Linked DNA regions of Homo sapiens. The protein of the gene in region 3 interacts with the protein of the main gene of each other region in a biochemical or structural test. Each region holds a gene or a part of one and is shown on either strand. Other genes may lie near its edges.

Region 1 (7,031 bases), on a different chromosome or scaffold from region 3:
CTGGATTTCACTCTAACTGGGGGGAAACCATTGAGGGCTCTGAGTAGGGAAGGGACATGGTGTGACATTTTATTCTGACTGCAGTATTGAGAACAGACTGTAGAGGACAAGGGAGAAGGCAGGGAAACCACTTAAGAGGTCATTGCAATAATCCAGAAGCGAGGTGATGGTGGCTGAACCCTTATTCCCACATTATTACTGTGGGAATAATGAAAAGTGGACAGACTGCAGATATAGTGCAAAGGCCAGCCAACAGGATTTGCTTATGAATTGAATGTGGAATGTGGAAAAAAAAGTTACAGCAACTGAAAAAATAAGATTGCTACGTATGGGCTTGGGAAAGATGGTGAGGGAAGCAGGTTTGGAGGAATCTTAGGCTGTTTTGGACATGTTATGTTTAAGAAAACTGGTTAGGTATCCAAGTAGAGATATTGAGAAGGCAGCTGGATATATGAGTCTGGAGTTCATATGCAAGTTAAATACAATATACAACAGATAAATTATAACAATACAGCAGCCATAATACTGACATGTAGCCCATAAACCCAAAAACTGTAACACCCAAACTGTACAATATGTAACTCATACATTAGTATATCACATATAACGTGTAACCTGTTCTTGCCCCCATATAGAACACATGTAATACATGACACAGATTATGTACATGCACTGGAGACAACATGCAACTACCCATGCATATACAAAATCCACACACATGAATATTTCAAGTGCAGTTACATAAAATCTCAAATCATAAACACAGGGGGTTCCTGTCACAGTCACAGCTGTCATTTAAGATCACTCCAACATGCCCCTTTAACCTGGCTCCTGCCTTCAGGGAGGTGAAGTGTCATTACTGTCATTTTGGGGTGAGGGAAATCACAGCTTGTCAGTGGCAGAGCTGGCCTGTAACTCAGCTTTCATCCTTGCCCCTTCCTGCACCTTGAGCCCATTCTCCATGCTATTTGTACCACACTTCTGTCTCACTCCCACCCTGCTTTGAATTAGTCTCCATCACTACACACAGGTCACACACCCAGCCCCAGGCCCTACCTGACTCTGTGCTGGTCCCATCCTCCAGGGAGCACATTAGCTTGGCAAAGATGCACAGTGACAGGGACTGGTGGCTGGCAGAAGTGTCAGCTGGAAAACAAGAGAAGGAGGCACAGGGAGCTTGAGGGGCAGGTGTTACTAGGAGCAGCCCCTCAGACAGTGTTGGTGCCTGAGAGTGGCCCAATACATCTAGAAACAGCCTGTGGGAGCTGGTGCTAGGCCCTCAGAGGCCCATGGGACAGTGTCCTCCCATATGGAGTAGCCAGGAAAGTCTAGGTCACTTATTTATCATCTTAAAATCTAACCCTAAATCTAAGAAAAATACAGGTTTTGTGTATACATGAGCAGTTTATGTTGTCTCTACTGCATATATATAATCTGTGTTGTATATCATATATGTCCCATCTCTGCCATTGGCTCAGGATAGAGAACAAACTCACCCAGCTCATAGGACCTTTTGTGATCTGGCCCCTGCCAATCTCTGAAGCTCATCTCTTGCTATGTCCCCAATACTTTCTATCCTGAATCATCTTTTTTTTTTTCCTTTGAGACAGAGTCTCTGTCACTCAGGCTGGAGTGCAGTGGCACAATCATGGCTCACTGCAGCCTTAACCTCCCGGGCTCAAATGATTCTCCCACTTCAGCCTCCTGAGTAGCTGGGACTACAGGCATGTGCCACCATGCCCAGCTAATTTTTTTTTTATTTTTATTTTTAGAGATGGGATTTTGCCATATTACCCAGGCTAGTCTCAAACTCCTGGCCTCAAGCGATGTGCCAGCCTCAGCCTCCTAAAGTGCTGGGATTACAGGTGTGAGCCACTGTGCCTGGCCCCTAGTTATCTTTCTAAGACACTTACTTGCTCAGGTAGTTCCTTCTTGAACCACAGCAGTAGGGCCCAAGCAGAGAAGATGATAGTTGCTGGAAAGAAATACATAGTAGGTGGAAGGGACAACCTGAGCAAAGGCTCTGAGGCAGGAAGCCCATCCATGGCTAGGTAATGGTATCTGGTAGGTGGAATCAAGCTATGTTGGAGAGGCGAGTAATGAGGCTGGACAGGGAACTTGGGGTCACACTGTGGAAGGCTTTCAGTGCAGGCCTAAGGAGAAAATGGGGAGCCATAAAAGATTTTGGAGAAGTTTGTATCTAATAAAAAGAATAAGAATCTTCCTGCTATGCGTGGTGCTCTGCATCTTCTGCTTTCTGTACTCATTATTTCATCTGCTCCTGCAACCTGTAAAGTAGGAATTGTCACTACTATTTTAAGGAAAATGGATGTGTCAGCCAGCAAGCCAGTGGCAGAGTCTTGGTCTCCAGGCTCCCTGCCTCTTGCACTGACTCTTTCTCTTTCAACCTCCCTGCATGACAGCTGGCAAGAGCCCATCCCTAATCTTCACCAACCGGCACGAGGTGCGGAGGATCGACCTGGTGAAGCGGAACTATTCACGCCTCATCCCCATGCTCAAGAATGTCGTGGCACTAGATGTGGAAGTTGCCACCAATCGCATCTACTGGTGTGACCTCTCCTACCGTAAGATCTATAGGTGAGCGGCCATATCCTCTGCAGCAAGGCATGAAGAGTGGGGGTGAGGGGTGGTGACAGGTGAGGAGGGGAGGAGTGGTGTCTGCCTCTAGAGCTCCTCAGGACAGAGTTGGGACTTGGGAAGAGATGCAGGATCACAGTGGATATGGAACTTCTGGGACTTTACTGGGGCTGGAGTAGTCTGAGGGCTCCCTTGGGTTAGCAGCTTTGAGCCCCAAACACCTGGGATTTGTCTGACCTCTGGAGGCCTAATATGGAAGCACAAGACACAGGAACTGTTTGGCCAGGGCAGAAAGGAAGAAATCCTGGCTTTGGGGAGGACTTTCCAAGCAGCTCACATCCCTGTGTGTTGGAACCTGGGGACTTAGACCTGGTCCCTGCCCAGAGGATCCCACTCACAACACAGTGACATCCATTTGTGATGATCATGAGAAAGTACAGAGGAGGCCTCCGAACCCACCTGGGCATCTGATCTGGCATGCCTTCCTGGATGGCATCACCCCAAGGCCAGCTTTTCACTGTCTTTGACGCCACAGTCAGTGGACCTGGTGCTTGGGAAGCTCTTCACACACTGGAGGAGGTTCTCTCCTAGGACTTTCTCAGATGCCAGCACCTGCCCCACTGCATGTCTGGGCCCTCTTCAGGCAGTCATGTCCTTTCTTTGTCCTGAGATCCACTTGGCAGGAATGCCGATGACCAGGCGCTGGGTAGACACTGAGTCACTGATGAAAGAATGATGGGACAGATGGGTGGAAGAGTGGATGGAAGCAAATATAGCAAGTGCTACTCACTGACAACTAGATTCCTGCCTCCCTGCAACATACAGACACTCCGTTCACACACACCCAAAAACATAACTAGAACAATGCCTGTCCAAGAGATGTAACTGAAAGAGGCAGGATTTGGTGACAGACTAGATATGGGGCTGATGGAAGAAATTTACTCCTTCATAGTGAATTTTGGGAGTTTCAGGTTTTTGGCTTGGGAGGTTTCATGAATGGTGGTGCTGTTCTCTGATGTGTGAAGCAGTAGAGGAGGATCAGGGCTCAGGGTTTGGGCCGTCTGGTTGGCCGAGGGGAAGGGAATGGGGATGAACAGTTTTGGACATATTGAGTTCAAGGTGTCCATGGGACATCCAAGGGGAGCTAGTTAGCTTTGCAGTCTGGATCGTAAGAGAGCTGTTGGGATTGGAGACTTAGTTATTGATGGCAGTGGACACTAAGGAACTAATCACCCAGAGAGAGGGCAAGAAGAAGAAAACCTCTGGGGAAACAGCATTTGCTATTTTGCTAATGTTGCCTCCTGAGTGTCTACTGTATTCTTAGCCCTTCTTTCCATTCTCACTGGCACGGTCATTCTTCAGACTCTCTTAATCTCCCACCCAGATGCTGTAACGTCCTCCTAACCAGTTTCCCTGCTTCATTCCCTCTCCTTCCAACCCATCCACTCCATAGATGCCACAGTGAACTAACATGCTTATTGGACTATATCCTCTGGCCTGTCTAGTTATCACTGGGGAGAAATCCTAATTCCTTGGCGTGGTACTCAAAGCCCATCAAGATGGGGTTCCTGCCTACACCTGCTTGCAGTCTGACACCCACATAAGCAGCTCCCCTAAGTATCTCACTGTTCCAGAGCAGACTCACCTCTGGCCATTTGCACAAGCCTTTCTTGTTCCCTAATGGCTTTCTGTCCTGGTGACTTCATGCTCCTGGTGAACTCGTCCTTCAGGACTCAACTATAAAGCCTTCTCCCGCCCTCTCGGATGAGGCAGTCTCCATGCCTCTGCTGCCATAGCCTCTAATGCTTTCCATAATCACATTGTATTATATCTGGCTCACCCTAATGGGCAGAGCTGTGGAGCAGCCCCACCTTAGAAAGCCAGAGACCGTGGCCCATGTAAGTCTGTACCCCTACCCTGGTACCCCAGGGAATGTGTAGAGTGGAAATTATCCACGTTCCTCTAAAAATCTATTGCCATGGCCCAGATGGAAGAGAGGGGAAGGGTGCACAGGTAGCTCCAGATGGGCCCATGGGTGGAACATCTGCCCCATGGTCATCTCTGTTTTCTCTTAAGCGCCTACATGGACAAGGCCAGTGACCCGAAAGAGCAGGAGGTCCTCATTGACGAGCAGTTGCACTCTCCAGAGGGCCTGGCAGTGGACTGGGTCCACAAGCACATCTACTGGACTGACTCGGGCAATAAGACCATCTCAGTGGCCACAGTTGATGGTGGCCGCCGACGCACTCTCTTCAGCCGTAACCTCAGTGAACCCCGGGCCATCGCTGTTGACCCCCTGCGAGGGTGAGTGTCCCAACTGAACTTCCCATTCTCCCACCATAGGTGCTCAGTCCTCTTGTGTCTGTCACAAGGGCTATCTTGAGGGTTCTAGAAAGCTCTGGGCCACTCAGACACAGGCCATGGGGAAGAAAGTCTTGTTAATCCCCAACCAAGGTTCTCTGGGCATTGGTCACCAAAGTTCTCCCTGGACTCTCCCACCCACTCGTTATATCGTAGAATTGGAGTGTCTCAGAGCAGAGTAGGGCTCTAGAGATGGCCTGATAGAAGCTCCTGGGGGAGGAAGCCTTTCTTCAGGCTGCTGTAGGTGAGCATCTGACAGCTGCTCACATACTTCCAAAGACAGGTAGCTCATTACCTCCCATAGGGCCTGTTTCACCGTGGGGCAGCTCTGCTCATTAGAAAGTGGGTCTTTTCCCCTCATAATGCCAAATCTATCTCCCTGCAACTTCCTCCATTGGCCTCTGGAGTTACATAAAACATGTCTATTCCCTGCCCTGTGAGAGAGCCAGCAAGATTTGAGGACCAAGATCACTGGTCTGTTCTGCTTCAGACTGCCTGCCTCCATCCCTACCCCTGTTGCCTATGGTCTCTGGGCCCTCACCACCTAGGTTGCCCTGCTCTGGCCACCCCTCAGTTTTGGGAGTTAGGGATTCTGAACAGAACAGGACTCCCTCTCTCCCTCAGTGTGGATATCTTGAGATGGTTTTTTTAGCGTTATATCATGTTAAGTTTAACAGAATCAACAGCTGCTTCCTACTGCTATTTCCTTGTTAAACAGGGATAAGAAAACCCTCTTCTTCGAGCAAGGGCAGCTGGTGAGGGGAGTACCACATGGGAGGTTATGTGAGGCCTTGGGAAGTGACTGATAGCTGCCATTCACTAAGCATGGGTCAGGTGCTTCCAGCACAGAACTAGGCACTCTGACAGATACGGAGCCTCTCCTCTTACCCTCACTTCATCCCTGTTCTCTGTCTGTTCTCATGCAGACCTTGTGTTGCACCTGCCACATCCTGTCCCTCACATCATAGAGTTACACCCAGCCCAACCCCAATCCACTGCGGATCGTCAGGGTCCCAGGAGGAAACCCACTGCATACTCAAGATAATCAGAGGAGGGTTTAATAAAGGGACTATTTACAAAGGAGTGGGTTAGGTCTAATTTACTACCTTGGATTAGTAACAGTGGGCTGCTACTGGCCCTAGTAGGCCTGAGGAGACAAAAGCAGGGAGGGTTACCTGAGTTAGGAAGCTCATCCACTTTCTCCTCTGAAACCAGAAAAGAGAGGGCTTACTAGGGCCTTCCCCACACTGACACCCTAGGGCTCTAGTTAGTTAGCACTGCCAGAAGTGGGAGAGATGGGGTCACAGGCTATTCAGCTGAGTCTGGGTGCAATCTCGGAGAATAGTTTTCCTCAAGTTCTCAAATGAGGTGAAGGCTAAAGTGCCTGCTAAATCTAAGATTTGATGGTTCAAAAGAACTTTAGAGGTCTTCTCAGTCCCTACTAAACATAAACCACAACTAGTCAATGGGTTATTGAGCTCTTGTGACTCAGACCACCCCGGTCATGTCCCCAGCAAGAAGGCAAATTGGGTTATTTTGTCTTTTAGGTTCATGTATTGGTCTGACTGGGGGGACCAGGCCAAGATTGAGAAATCTGGGCTCAACGGTGTGGACCGGCAAACACTGGTGTCAGACAATATTGAATGGCCCAACGGAATCACCCTGGGTGAGCCCTGCCTTTCCTGGGTTGGGGGCCTATTCTAGTGCCTTGTCCTGATCACTGTCTGGAACTCCATGAGTCTTGTTTCTGGGTCCTCTCATGGTGCCAGTGACTTTGTTTCCTAATGGTTGCCGTAGGCTGGCCTCAGTGTGAGGCCTAGAAATGTGGGCAGGGAGAGGTACAAAGGAACAGAGCTCCAGACTGGGGTCCCAGGTTCATGACCTGATCCTGCTTCCTTCCCAAGATCTGCTGAGCCAGCGCTTGTACTGGGTAGACTCCAAGCTACACCAACTGTCCAGCATTGACTTCAGTGGAGGCAACAGAAAGACGCTGATCTCCTCCACTGACTTCCTGAGCCACCCTTTTGGGATAGCTGTGTTTGAGGTGAGTCCTGTAAGGAGAGGCAAGGGCC
Region 2 (7,031 bases), on a different chromosome or scaffold from region 3:
TCCAGGAGAAGGGAACATAGTTACGAAGGGTGAAGTAGGGAATGGCTTAAAATTGAGCATAATGTGGGGGATTAGACTTGGACCCCAGGGAGGATAAGGAAAAAGGGAAAGAGCTTGGGAGCCTTCCCATACTTTACCTGACTTCGGGTGACGGCAGCCCTGTACAGCAGTGCAGCTGGGGTCAAGTGCTGGGACCCAGCCCGGCTTCCTCCCCGGCCTGAGGTCCCTTCCCTTCCAGTTCCCAGAAGCCCCACACCTTCACCAGGCCCTACTGGAGGAGGTGGTTCCCCTTTGGCTCCCCCAGGTGAATCTGGGCTGGTGGAGCCAGGGGCTGAGCCCTCACTTGGTGGGGTGTCACCCCGGGCCGGAGGTGGTGAGCCAGGATCCCCAGCTCCGCCTGTGGCCCCCCGGCCCCGGGACCCTAGTGCTGCTGACAGCAGGTCTGGGGACGATGAAGACATTTTGCGGAGCAGGAGGTCATGATGAAGCCCACGGAGGGCGGGAGGGCAGGCCTCCCAGGCTGAGGGTCCCCCTCCTAGGCCCCCTGGGCTTCCTGGTCCTCCAGGTTCATGGGGTGGCACAGCTGTACGAAGCCCAGGCAGGTCCCCACAGCTCCCCTTGGCGCTGGCCTTGCGGTGACGGGTCTTGCCACGGCGACTCCGTCCTGGTGAGGGGGGGCCCTTAGGACACCCAGGAAGCCCCACCCCACTCAGGGCTGCATCTAGTTTAGGGAGCAAAGACTCCGTCTTGAGGATATCTGGCCTGGAAGAAGAGGAAAAGTAAAAGGTTAAGACTGCCAAATCTATGTACTCAAAGCACTCCCTAACCTTGGACACTAAAGTACACATCTCCCTGCTAATATACCTGTTGCCACTTCAGTATCCCTCTTGCCATATTGGAACCACAGTACTCATGTCCCACCTTTTGCTATGGGGTGACAGCTTCTGTGGCACATTCCTCTTCTTGATAAGCTTCTCCATTGTGTTTCCATGCAGGAGGCCCCGGGAAGGGTGTGGCTTCAGCAGGCCTGGGCACCTCCGCTCTAAAGCTTGCTCTCGCCTAAAGATCCAGGCACCTTCTCAGCTGGGCAAATGACCAGGAAGGGGCACCCCAGTCTCAGTAGGACCTCTAAGGCAGGCACAGCTCCAGGGCTTGGTGCATAAGGACAGGTAGGGTTACCTGAGCAGCTCCCTCTCCTTGAGTTCCAGCTGCAACATGAGGGCATTAAGTTCCATATACAGGTTGTTGGCTCTCTCCAGCTTCCTTTCATAGTGCTCCCTGATGTCCAGGGCGTGTCTGCAACGGGCAGAAAGGTTCCCCAAGGTGAACTGGGTTCACCTAGGGCCATAACAGATCTCAGTCTCAGAATTCCTGTCCACAGTCCTTTCGTAGTCCTTCCACCCGCCCTGGGGCTGGGTAGGAGCTGACTGGGTGCATAGTCCTTGCTGTTAGTAAAATCACCTCCCCAAGCACGGGAACTCACCTGAGCTCCTCCCTCCTCCTCATCACCAGTTCCTCTTCTAGGCGGTGCAGACAGGTCCCTTCTGACTTAATCTTTTCAAAGTGCAGTTTTACTTCTTCCCGCCACTCTGCCTATGGGTTGAGAGCAGATGAAGAGTGAGAGCCATCCCTTCACCCAGTGAAAGGCTCTGCAGGTTGCCCACACCACTGCCAATGTGTGTGCTGGAGCAAAAAGGAGTGGATTGACTCAGCCCTCTAAGAGCCAATCTCTTCAGTCCCACTCAACCCATTTCCCAGCCTCCCCCTCAAATAGCATCATCTCTGCAAAGAAGGGGAGTTAGGTATTTATTTTCCTACCCACAGCACACCTGGGACTTAAAGTAAGTCTCCTGGGGTGTGGAGAGTACATCAGCTGAGGCAATGTCCAGATGCAGCAGGATCTGTCGGAATGATGGGCGATTTCGTGGTTTGCTATTCCTGAAAGGAATGGAGTTAGGAAGGAGAGGGGAGAATTTGAGGGAGGATCAGATAGGAACTGGAGCATCCTTTCCCAAAGTGTGTCCTGGAGAATCCAATCCTAGAATGTACTCTGTGACAAAAGAACTTATGGTCAACTGTCTCTAGAGAATATTACACACTATTCATTAGTGTGTCAAAATCCTGCAGTAAGGAAACCTATTGAACCCCATATTTTCCAACTTGTCTCCCAAAATAAAAGCCTTTTCTGAATAACTTCATTGAAGGAACCACATTTTGGGAAATGCTCAGTGACAGATTAGCAATCGTCAAACTTCCCTGGGTCTAGGTTCCAAATGAGGGTCTGGGGTCCTTTCCTTCTGTGTTCTAAGGTTGTTTACTTGAGGCTCAACCAACCATGCTTGGTGGTTATGCTGCTCCTTCCTTGTACTTGTATGCACTCACTGGCACTTCATGACAAATCAGGAATGCAGATATCGTTAAGTGTATTTTATAGATGAGGAAACAGGTTCAGAGTAGATACCAATTACCCCTGGTGACTCAGCTCAGAAGGTAGCATGAGCCTGATTCAGATGAAAGTCAGTCTCTTTGAATTAAATGTACCCCTGCCATTTATTGGTCAGTCCAGCCCAGTACTACCGTGCTTCTCAACTTCTCCAGGCCCAGTATCCCAGCCCAGACCATCCTTACCAGCACTGGCGAAGCAGGATCTTGAAACCATCTGGGCAACTGGAGGGCACGGGCAGATGGAGACTGTTGCTTCCCACACCCCAGATAATGGCTGAGGAATCTACGTCTTTGTAGGGGATCTCACCAGTCAGCAGTTCCCATAGCACCACGCCAAAGGACCTAGGGATGAGGGGACATCACTTGTGCTCAAGCCCTAGAAGTTGCCCACAATCCCCCCAGGGCTGGCCACCCACTCTTCTCAGTTTTCAGCCTAGTTCTCACCAGATGTCGACCTTCTCAGACACAGGTTCATTGCGGATCACCTCAGGGGCCATCCAGGCTACTGTCCCTGCAAAGGACATCTTGGTGCTCTTGTCACTCAGCTCCTTGGAAGTGCCAAAATCTGAGATCTTCACCACATCGTCGTAGGTGATTAGCATGCTGGTAAAGAGTGTAGTCAGCTGGGGTCCACACCCCTCCACACACCTCATCTAACTCTGCAGCAACTCTGCCTTTCAGGTTTTTTTGTTTGTTTGTTTGAGACGGAGTCTCACTCTGTCACTCAGGCTGGAGTGCAGTGGCTCAATCTCGGCTCACTGCAACCTCCACCTCCTGGGTTCAAGTGATTCTCCTGCCTCAGCCTCCTGAGTAGCTGAGACTACGGGCACTCGCCACCACGCCTGACTAATTTTTTTGTATTTTTATTAGAGACGAGGTTTCACCATGTTGGCCAGGATGGTCTCGATCTCTTGACCTTGTGATCCACCCGCCTCGGCCTCCCAAAGTGTTGGGATTACAGGCGTGAGCCACTGCATCCGGCCTGCCTTTCAGTTTAAAATCATTTGGGACACTCAAAGGTGAGGGGCTCACTACAGCCCTTCTGAGATGGGACTGTCACTTGGAAGAGGTTTCTGAGATGGCCACATGGACCTAGGGCATGGTTTGGAAGCCGGGAGAAGGCCACACTGACTTGAGTGGGTCACCTGCATGCACATCTGTTGCTCCCTGCTTGCTTACTCACTTGGGTGACTTGAGATCCCTGTGGATAATCTTGTGCAGGTGCAGGTAGTTCATGCCACCAGCGATGCCCATGGACCAGTCAACCAGTAAGGAGGGGGTGACAGGGCGGCCAGCCCGCAGTACCTCATACAGCTGGCCCTGGGCGCAGAACTCCATGAGGATGCAGTAGCAGGGAGCCTGGGTGCACACACCCCTGGGAGCCAAACAATGGTATGAAGGCCTCAGCTGGCTCAGCATTCACCTGATTCATACCTGGAACCCCCATTCCCACCCATTCCACCTATGGATCTCCTCTGGGGAAGGATGGGGTAGGTCCCACTGCCCAGGAGGGTACCAGGCCTTAGCATAGTATCCCCAACACCCAGCCCCTGCCCTGGACCTCACTTGAAAGTGATGATGTTGGGGTGCTTCAGCTTTCGCAAGTGCTTGATGTCGGTTTCTTTGAGGTCTCGCACCTTCTTCACAGCCACCTCCTCCCCGTGGAAGCGCCCCAGGAAGACAGCACCCTGGGCCCCTGAGCCCACCCACTGCAGGTCCAGGATTTCCTCAAAGGGGACCTCCCAAAGGTCTGTGGGCAGGAGGCACAGTGCCACAAGCCTCAGAAAGAGCCACACTCAAGGCCAGGGACAGGATAGCATTGGGTTGGCTGAATTGACTTAAGGAGGGTGAGGCAGAAAGCCAAAAATAGGCCAAGAAGAAGGTTCGAGGGGACAGGGAAGGAATGAATGGGTGGCCTTAAAAGAAGCTGGGAAGTTAGAGGCTGATGGATGGCTAAGGGACTAGGGCTGGGCCATGGGGAGGGAAGGGACCATTGCGTGACTTTAGCGGAGCTGACCAACAGATCTCGGGCTCAGGGAAACAGAGAGGAGGCTCCCACAAGGACGTGGCCTACCTTCCTGCTGCTGCTTGTGCTCAGTGGAGTAGGCTTTGCCAATCATGGTCCAGACAGGGCGCAGGCAGCCAAAGAGGCCCTCAAGGAAGCCACTGCCACTCTGGCACTGCAGTCGCACCTCGTCAGCTCGAACTCTGGATGCCCGACTCTCAGGTGACCCAGCTGCTCCCCCTGGGCCCCCTGCATCCTGCTCATGTAGCTGCAGGACACTGTTGGCAAAAGGCTCAGGGGGCGGCTCTCCACCTGGGGAGGGGCTGGGCCCTCCCCCACCCTGCCCACCAAGGGGTACCACATCTCGAAGTACACACTGGGTAGGCGTCAGGTCCTTCTCGGGAGTGCAGTCAGAAGTGTCTGGGTCCAGCTTGCGCATGGATGCCTCACTTAGGGTAGACACAAAGCCCCCAAAGGAAGGAGAGGGTGTTCGGGTCTCATGGAGGCAAGCCATCGCCTCTGGCCCCTGGTATGATGGTGAACACTGGGCCCTGTGGGAATGAAGGAAGGAGGGGCTGGGCTGTTAAAGCCCCAGGACTGCCTGCTCAGGACACTTATCCCAGAGGCACAGACTGGGGTGCTGGGTTCACAGTAGCCCCGCTGGAGGTAACACTTGTGGCTCCGTTTCCCATGGCCCTCCAAATTGCACCTTGAGCCATCTTAGGAAATCTGATACACTTGGGCTTCCTCTCAGGCATGTTAGTAAGGCAAGTAATAGGTAGACAGGTATCGTACCTGAGTATCATTCTCAGGTAACAGCCCCACGTGGGTACACACTGGTAAAATATGTCTCAAATTCAAGAGTAATGGTAACAGATGAGTTCCCTTCTCCCTGTAAGATGACTAATTCATTGCTGCAGCACATTTTTTTCACCCGAGACTCACAGGCACACACAGGTATCAGAAGGGTCTCACATTTACACCTTTACCTCGGGGTCAACCTCAGGCACACAATAGTAACACCTAGACCTCCTTCACATTGAAGCACACACAGGATGCTGGTAAACCTTTCAGACACCCTTGGACAGCATTCTTGAGCTGCCTACACACAGGCGATGCACCCGGGCCTCCCACCCAGGTACTTACACACGGTACTACTGAGGCCCTCTCAGGAACACTCAACTCAGGTGAGAGCCTCATTCTAAAACACACCCCTGGGCCTCTCCAAGGTAAGTGAAGGTTGTAACCACAGAGTTCTGTCCCCCCAGCACAGGTGGGGAAAAAGGCAGAAGCAGCCAATGGGGATGCAGACACTGTCACAGAAGGCCACTGCTTCATCCCCCTTGGCCCTCCCTTCAGTCCAGCGGCTCTCCCAGGGGTCAAACAAGGTCTTGTCTTCTCTTTCCTCTTCTCCATTGCCCCATCCTCTGCTCCCCAAACTTTCCAGGCAATGGAGATGTGTCCCAGTTCATAGCTGGGTGCTATTTAAAAAGCAACCATTAGGCCGGGTGCAGTGGCTCACACCTGTAATCTCAGCACTTTCAGAGGCCGAGGCGGGCGGATCACCTGAGGTCAGGAATTCGAGACCAGTCTGGTCAACATGGAGAAACCCCGTCTCTACTAAAAATACAAAATTAGCTAGGCGTGGTGGCACATGCCTGTAATCCCAGCTACTTGGGAGGCTGAGGCAGAAGAATTGCTTAAACCCGGGAGGCTGAGGTTTTGGTGAGCCAAGATCATGCCACTGCACTCCAGCCTGGGCAACAAGAGCGAAACTCTGTCTAAAAAAATATATAAATAAATAAAAAGCAACCATTAAAAAACCTGAATCTGGCACGGTGTGTTGGCTCATGCCTGTAATCTCAACACTTTGGGAGGCTGAGGCAGGTGGATCACTTGAGCTCAAGAGTTTGAGACCTTGGCTGGGCGCAGTGGCTCACGCCTGTAATCCTAGCACTTTGGGAGGCTGAGGTGGGTGGATCGCTTGAGGTCAGGAGTTTGAGACCAGCCTGGCCAACATGGCGAAACCCTGTCTCTACTTAAAAAGAAAAAATTAGCTGGGCGTGGTGGTGGATGCCTGTAATCCCAGCTACTCGGGAGGCTGAGGCAGGAGAATCACTTGAACCCCAGAGGTGAGGTTGCAGTAAGCCAAGATCACACCACTGCACTCCAGCCTTGGGCGACAGAGTGAAACTCTGTCTCAAAAAAAAAAAAAAAAAAAAAAGTTTGAGACCAGCCTGGGCAACATGGCAAAACCCTGTCTCTACCAAAAATAGAAACAAACAAACAAACAAAAAACAACAAAGCTGGGCATGGTGATCCTGTGACTGTGGTCCCAGCTCCTCTGGAGGCTGAGGTGAGATGATTGCTTGAGCCCAGGTGGCGGAGGTTGCAGTAAGCCACTGAATCCCAGCCTGGGCGAAGTAGCCAAACCCCGTCTCAAAAAACAAACAAACAAACAAAAACCCTGAATCCTGACTTGCTTCTGCCACATAATGGCTATGTGACCTCAGGCGAGCTGTAGTTGAGCCTCAGCTATACAAAGGAATAAACTGGCTGTCACTAAGGCACAGCAAACCCT
Region 3 (4,346 bases):
GGCTGAGCACCCCGACATCTCCCACAGGTCTCAGCGGTCTGTTCCTGAGGCATTTTCCGCCCCCCTGGAACTCTCGCAGCCACTTTCCGGCCTGGTGGATGGTAGTATCTCTCTTGTCCCCTTCCCCTACCCATCCCTGACAGTGGAGACGCCCCTAAGAGGTGCCCCAAGTCCAGCCTTCAGGGGCTTGTCATCCCAAACCACATCTGTTCAAGGGTGACTTCAGTTCCATCAGAGCCAGCTGCCCCCTACCACCCATGCCCTCTTTTCTCTCTTTAGACTATGGCATCCTCCCCAAGCACCCAAGGCCGCGAGGGCCTCGACCCCTCCTGTCTAGGGCCCAGCAGCGCAAGCGGGACGGGCCCGACCTTGCCGAGTATTACTATGATGCACACCTATGACCCAAGGCCCTCATAAAGATACCATGTGTGACAAAGGCTTGGCTTTCCTGGGCTGGGAGCGAGACGGGGACGGGAGGGGCCCATGCAGATACATCCACTGCAGTCCAGACAGGAAATGGCACTTTAATAGTTGGGGCCAGGGTGACAGGACCAAGATGGGGCTGGCCTGTGTCAGTCAGGAAGCCTCCCTCTTCTGCTGGGACAGGGCCTTGCGGCAGCTCCTCCTCCCCGCCTGAGGTCCTAGGCCTGCCACAGGCCAGCATGCCGGTGAGGTCAGTGGCAGGAGCCACCCAGAAGCCCCGCAGATGACGGAGCTGAGAACAGGGACTTCACCTCCACGTGTTGCCATTTCCTCACTGGAAAGTCCTTGGGAGGTGGCTGGGCTCAGCCTGAGCTCAGGGCTCTTCGGTGGGGGTTGGGGCAGGGGCAGGGCGGGCACTTGCAGGTGGCACAGGCTTCATCAAGGCAGGACACGGGCTTCATCAAGGCAGGAGCCACAGCGCCCGAGCCCTGGCAGGGGAGGTAAGGCCCAGGATGGGGCAGGGCCGTGTGCTCCTGGAACGGACATCCTTCTCTGCCAGAGACCTGCTCCCCAAGCCCTGTCCCTCCCAATCCCCAGGCAGCCCACTCTGCCCTCCATAGATGAATCTAATCCCATATATTACAATAAACTGCATTTGCCTCTCCCCATTGCCCCACCCTCCCCTACCCTGGGCCAGCGGCCCCCACTTCCTTGTCCTCTGGCGGTGGCAGGTGCCCCTCCTCAAGCAGTGCCACATCCTGTCAGCAGCCAGCTGTCCTGGCACTGGCCTGAGGGCTGGGGGACGCAGAGGGCGGGGCTGCACAGCTACTCCAGGTAGATATCTTCTGTGGGGCAGGTGTACTCCACAAACTGCTTGTAGAACTGCTGGAATGCTCTCCTAGAAGCCAGGGGACACACAGATGGCTCAGATCGCCACTGGCAAGGGAGGAACAGGATCCCGACCCAGGGTTTTCCCGCTGGAGCCTTGGGGCCCAAGTGCAGCTCTGGTTCCTCTGGCTGGGGCCACTTGGCTCTGTTCTCTACAGAATTGCCATCGCGTTTCCCAGTAAGATGTCAGTTGAAGACATGGCCCAACAGCTACCAAGCTTGGAAGCTGCTCCTCAGGCTCACCCTGCCGCGCCACCCTCCCTCCAGGCCACCCGCACTGGGGTCCGGAGATAGTTCTCCAGAGCTGCGGGGGAAACCGAGGGGCAAAGCTGAGCGCCAGGAAGCAGCCCCAGGGCCTGGGATTGGGCGTGCTCCCTCGGGCTGGGTGCTCAGCAGGGTGTACACGTACCCCACGGACTCTGCCAGGGCTTTGGTGGAGTCTTCAGACACAAAGACGTGGCAGGCAAACCGGTGGTCGGCGGGGTGCTTGGTGATGAACCCAAAGTACCTGCAGGGACAGGTCTGTCTGTGCTGGGACGGGGGCTCGGCCCACACCCACCCACCTCAAGGCTGCAGACCACCCGTGCCTCCTCCACTGCCATCCCACCCCCACTTACTTGTTGTTCTTTGGATGATATCCGCAGAAAGAGATGTTTTTTAACTGGAAAAAGTGGCTACATTTATTCCCCTACAGGAGGGAGAAAAGAAGCAAGAGGGCGGTCACCTGGCCTGCAGTGAGGGTGACAGGAGATGGCCTCTTCATCACAAGTCTTGGGGGAGAGCTTGGGGCCATGGAAGGAAGGGGCTGGGTTGGAAGAAGTCACCTTGGCCTCCTGGGAGTCATCGGCCTTGACGCCTATCTTCACACCCCGCACGCTGATCTCCAGGACACAGCTGGAGGGCGGGTTAAAGTGCACGGTGAGCCGGCGGGTGGTGGCAATCTACAGGTGACAAATGGAGCCACGTCAGCTGCTGTCTGTTCCTCTGCTGATCCCTCCTGTCCCAGGGCCTGAGCCCTTTACTGCCTCTAGACACCTGCGTCCCTCTGCCCCAGGGACCCATCCAAGGGAGGAGAAGGGAGAGGGCTCAGGTACCTTTTGCATAGCAGCACAGAGGACGTCATTGCCCTTGTGATAGGGAACCTGGACTGAGCCCAGGAACTTCACCCGGAACTGGTCCACCCAGTCACTGTTTTTGGCCAGGGCTGGAAAGCAAGCGTGAATTGAGGAGGGGCAGAAAGAGCAGGAGGGAGCTGAGCAGCCAAGTGAAGGAGGGTGGGTGAGGCACGGGGAATGGCAGAGCCCACAGAGGCTGCCACAATCCCTGGCTGCCCAACTTGGCCGGGCCTCACTTTGCTTGATCGTGAAAAGGACCTAAAATCACTTCCACTCAGCCCCCCACCTGGCTGGCTGAGATCTGGAGTACACGTTCACCTAGCAGCAAGTTGGGGCAGACAGATGTGGTGGCTGGGGGCACAGGCCAGGGAGGGAACACTACCTGCCATGTGCTCGGGCTCCTTGGTGACCTCGATGGCGTAATAGGCAGGAAAGACACCCCGGGCACCAGTGCGCATGTTGTAGGCCTCGTACCAGTAGTCTTCAGCCTGGAGCTCCACTAGCAGAGGGTCATCCACTTCCAGCTCAAGTTCGTCTTCGTGTCGAGGCACAAACCTGTCCCCAGCAAGGACAGGTGAGAAATTCGGCACCAAGGCCTGTCCAGCCAGGCCTACTCTGGGGTCTGGGAGCCACAGCAGCATCGTTATTTCAGTAAACATTTGCAAAAGCATCCTGTGTGCCTGTTGCAGTACTAACCCCAGGGGAGAGCAAGGTCAAGCAGACATGCATCTGCCATCGAGGAAACACAGGCCAAGGGAGGGTGTGGGCAGGGCCCCCTCTAAAATGGAGAGGCTGTGGGAAGCGCAGGCTTTTGTCTAGAGAAGGGTCAGGTGGGGTGTGGGCAGGCATCCTCCTGGTCACCCTCCTGGGTGCCCTGCCCCTGGCCAGACTAGGTGCACAGTTCTGGGATCCCTCACTGTAGCCATCCTCTTTGTCACCATACTCTGAGTCCCTAGAGAGTGGACACTGTCCTCCCAGGGCTGAGTGGATAAATGAAGGCTGATGGCAGGGGTTAGGCTGAGGCCATGTAGGGGTGACAAGTAGAGGGTGGTGTGTGGCCCAAACTGCTGCCTGGCTAGGCCCAGCCAGCCCATGGCTCTCACCTGAATATGGCCCGGTGGGTCTGCTCCTGCTCCTCCCCGTTGATGATGCAGGAGAACAGCCCGAAGGACTCAGCACCTGCAGGTGAGGTGGTGTGGCTGGATGGGGGGTCGCAGCTCTGATCCAGGTTTAGCGGGGCAGGTAGAAGCCTCAGTCCTAACCAGATGGGGCCTGGGGTCGCCTCCCAGAACACTTCGCATTTTGGCTCTGCCCCCGCTAGGGACCCCCCCACCCCACTGCTTCCCCTTGCTGACTCACTGGAGGAGCGGGAGCGGCCACTCATGAAGACGTTCAGGAATTTCTTGGAGAAATGGACGTCGGGTTCATCAGGCGTGGAGTCCTCGGAGAGGCAGGCAGGGGGCTGGGGCCGCGGGGCCTCCTCATATTCCTCTCCGATGGCCGACTCATAGGGCGAGGAGACGGAGGCACAGTTGTCATAGACGGTGGCAGAGTCACTCTCGTCACTGTAGTCTCCGAAGCACGGCCGCAGGCTCACCAGCTCCAGCTGTGCATGCTCATCTACCACCAGCGTGTACTTGACAGAGTCATAGGACAGGGCGCTGGTGTCCGAGCTCAGAGAGGCCCGTGGAGGTGGCGGCGGCTCCCCCAGGCTCCCCCGCCACCCTCCGCCTGGGGGCTCAGCCCGCTCTGGGGACGACAGGCAGTCGAAGCCCTCTTCCTCTTCACTGATGGAGGGGTGCGGCCGCCCTGCCGTGGAGGGGTAGGCGGCAGGGTCTGGATCGGAGCTGACTGACATCCGGCTCTCAGTGGGCGGCAGGAAGGCGGAGGTGGGCTCTGCAGCGTCTGGGGGCCTCTGCA

What was found. The genes of interacting proteins can lie anywhere in the genome.
Region 1: the proteins of MAPK8IP1 (region 3) and LRP8 form a complex in vitro, tested with the Homo sapiens proteins (one study listed by BioGRID).
Region 2: the proteins of MAPK8IP1 (region 3) and MAP3K12 form a complex in vitro, tested with the Homo sapiens proteins (one study listed by BioGRID).

Annotation. Positions count from the first base shown.
Region 1 is NC_000001.11:53,262,040-53,269,070, reverse strand, and holds part of LRP8 (low-density lipoprotein receptor-related protein 8 isoform 1 precursor), read left to right. Parts: exon of another isoform or gene 1-1,146; intron 1,147-1,913; exon of another isoform or gene 1,914-1,975; intron 1,976-2,423; coding exon 2,424-2,598; intron 2,599-3,057; exon of another isoform or gene 3,058-3,319; intron 3,320-4,674; coding exon 4,675-4,902; intron 4,903-6,506; coding exon 6,507-6,625; intron 6,626-6,863; coding exon 6,864-7,003; intron 7,004-7,031. UniProt on the Homo sapiens protein: Cell surface receptor for Reelin (RELN) and apolipoprotein E (apoE)-containing ligands. LRP8 participates in transmitting the extracellular Reelin signal to intracellular signaling processes, by binding to DAB1 on its cytoplasmic tail.
Region 2 is NC_000012.12:53,482,428-53,489,458, forward strand, and holds part of MAP3K12 (mitogen-activated protein kinase kinase kinase 12), read right to left. Parts: intron 5,002-7,031; 5' UTR 4,965-5,001; coding exon 4,520-4,964; intron 4,196-4,519; coding exon 4,012-4,195; intron 3,821-4,011; coding exon 3,629-3,820; intron 3,049-3,628; coding exon 2,890-3,048; intron 2,788-2,889; coding exon 2,629-2,787; intron 1,939-2,628; coding exon 1,830-1,938; intron 1,594-1,829; coding exon 1,484-1,593; intron 1,339-1,483; coding exon of another isoform or gene 1,335-1,338; exon of another isoform or gene 1,320-1,334; intron 1,297-1,319; coding exon 1,180-1,296; intron 1,060-1,179; coding exon 922-1,059; intron 763-921; coding exon 138-762; coding exon of another isoform or gene 72-137; exon of another isoform or gene 1-71.
Region 3 is NC_000011.10:45,902,624-45,906,969, reverse strand, and holds the end of MAPK8IP1 (C-Jun-amino-terminal kinase-interacting protein 1), read right to left. Parts: coding exon 3,786-4,346; intron 3,606-3,785; coding exon 3,530-3,605; intron 2,982-3,529; coding exon 2,809-2,981; intron 2,516-2,808; coding exon 2,406-2,515; intron 2,253-2,405; coding exon 2,136-2,252; intron 2,000-2,135; coding exon 1,929-1,999; intron 1,820-1,928; coding exon 1,721-1,819; intron 1,322-1,720; coding exon 1,249-1,321; 3' UTR 505-1,248; downstream 1-504. Other genes in the region: FREY1 (protein Frey 1), read left to right, coding at 28-101, 280-401. UniProt on the Homo sapiens protein: The JNK-interacting protein (JIP) group of scaffold proteins selectively mediates JNK signaling by aggregating specific components of the MAPK cascade to form a functional JNK signaling module. Required for JNK activation in response to excitotoxic stress.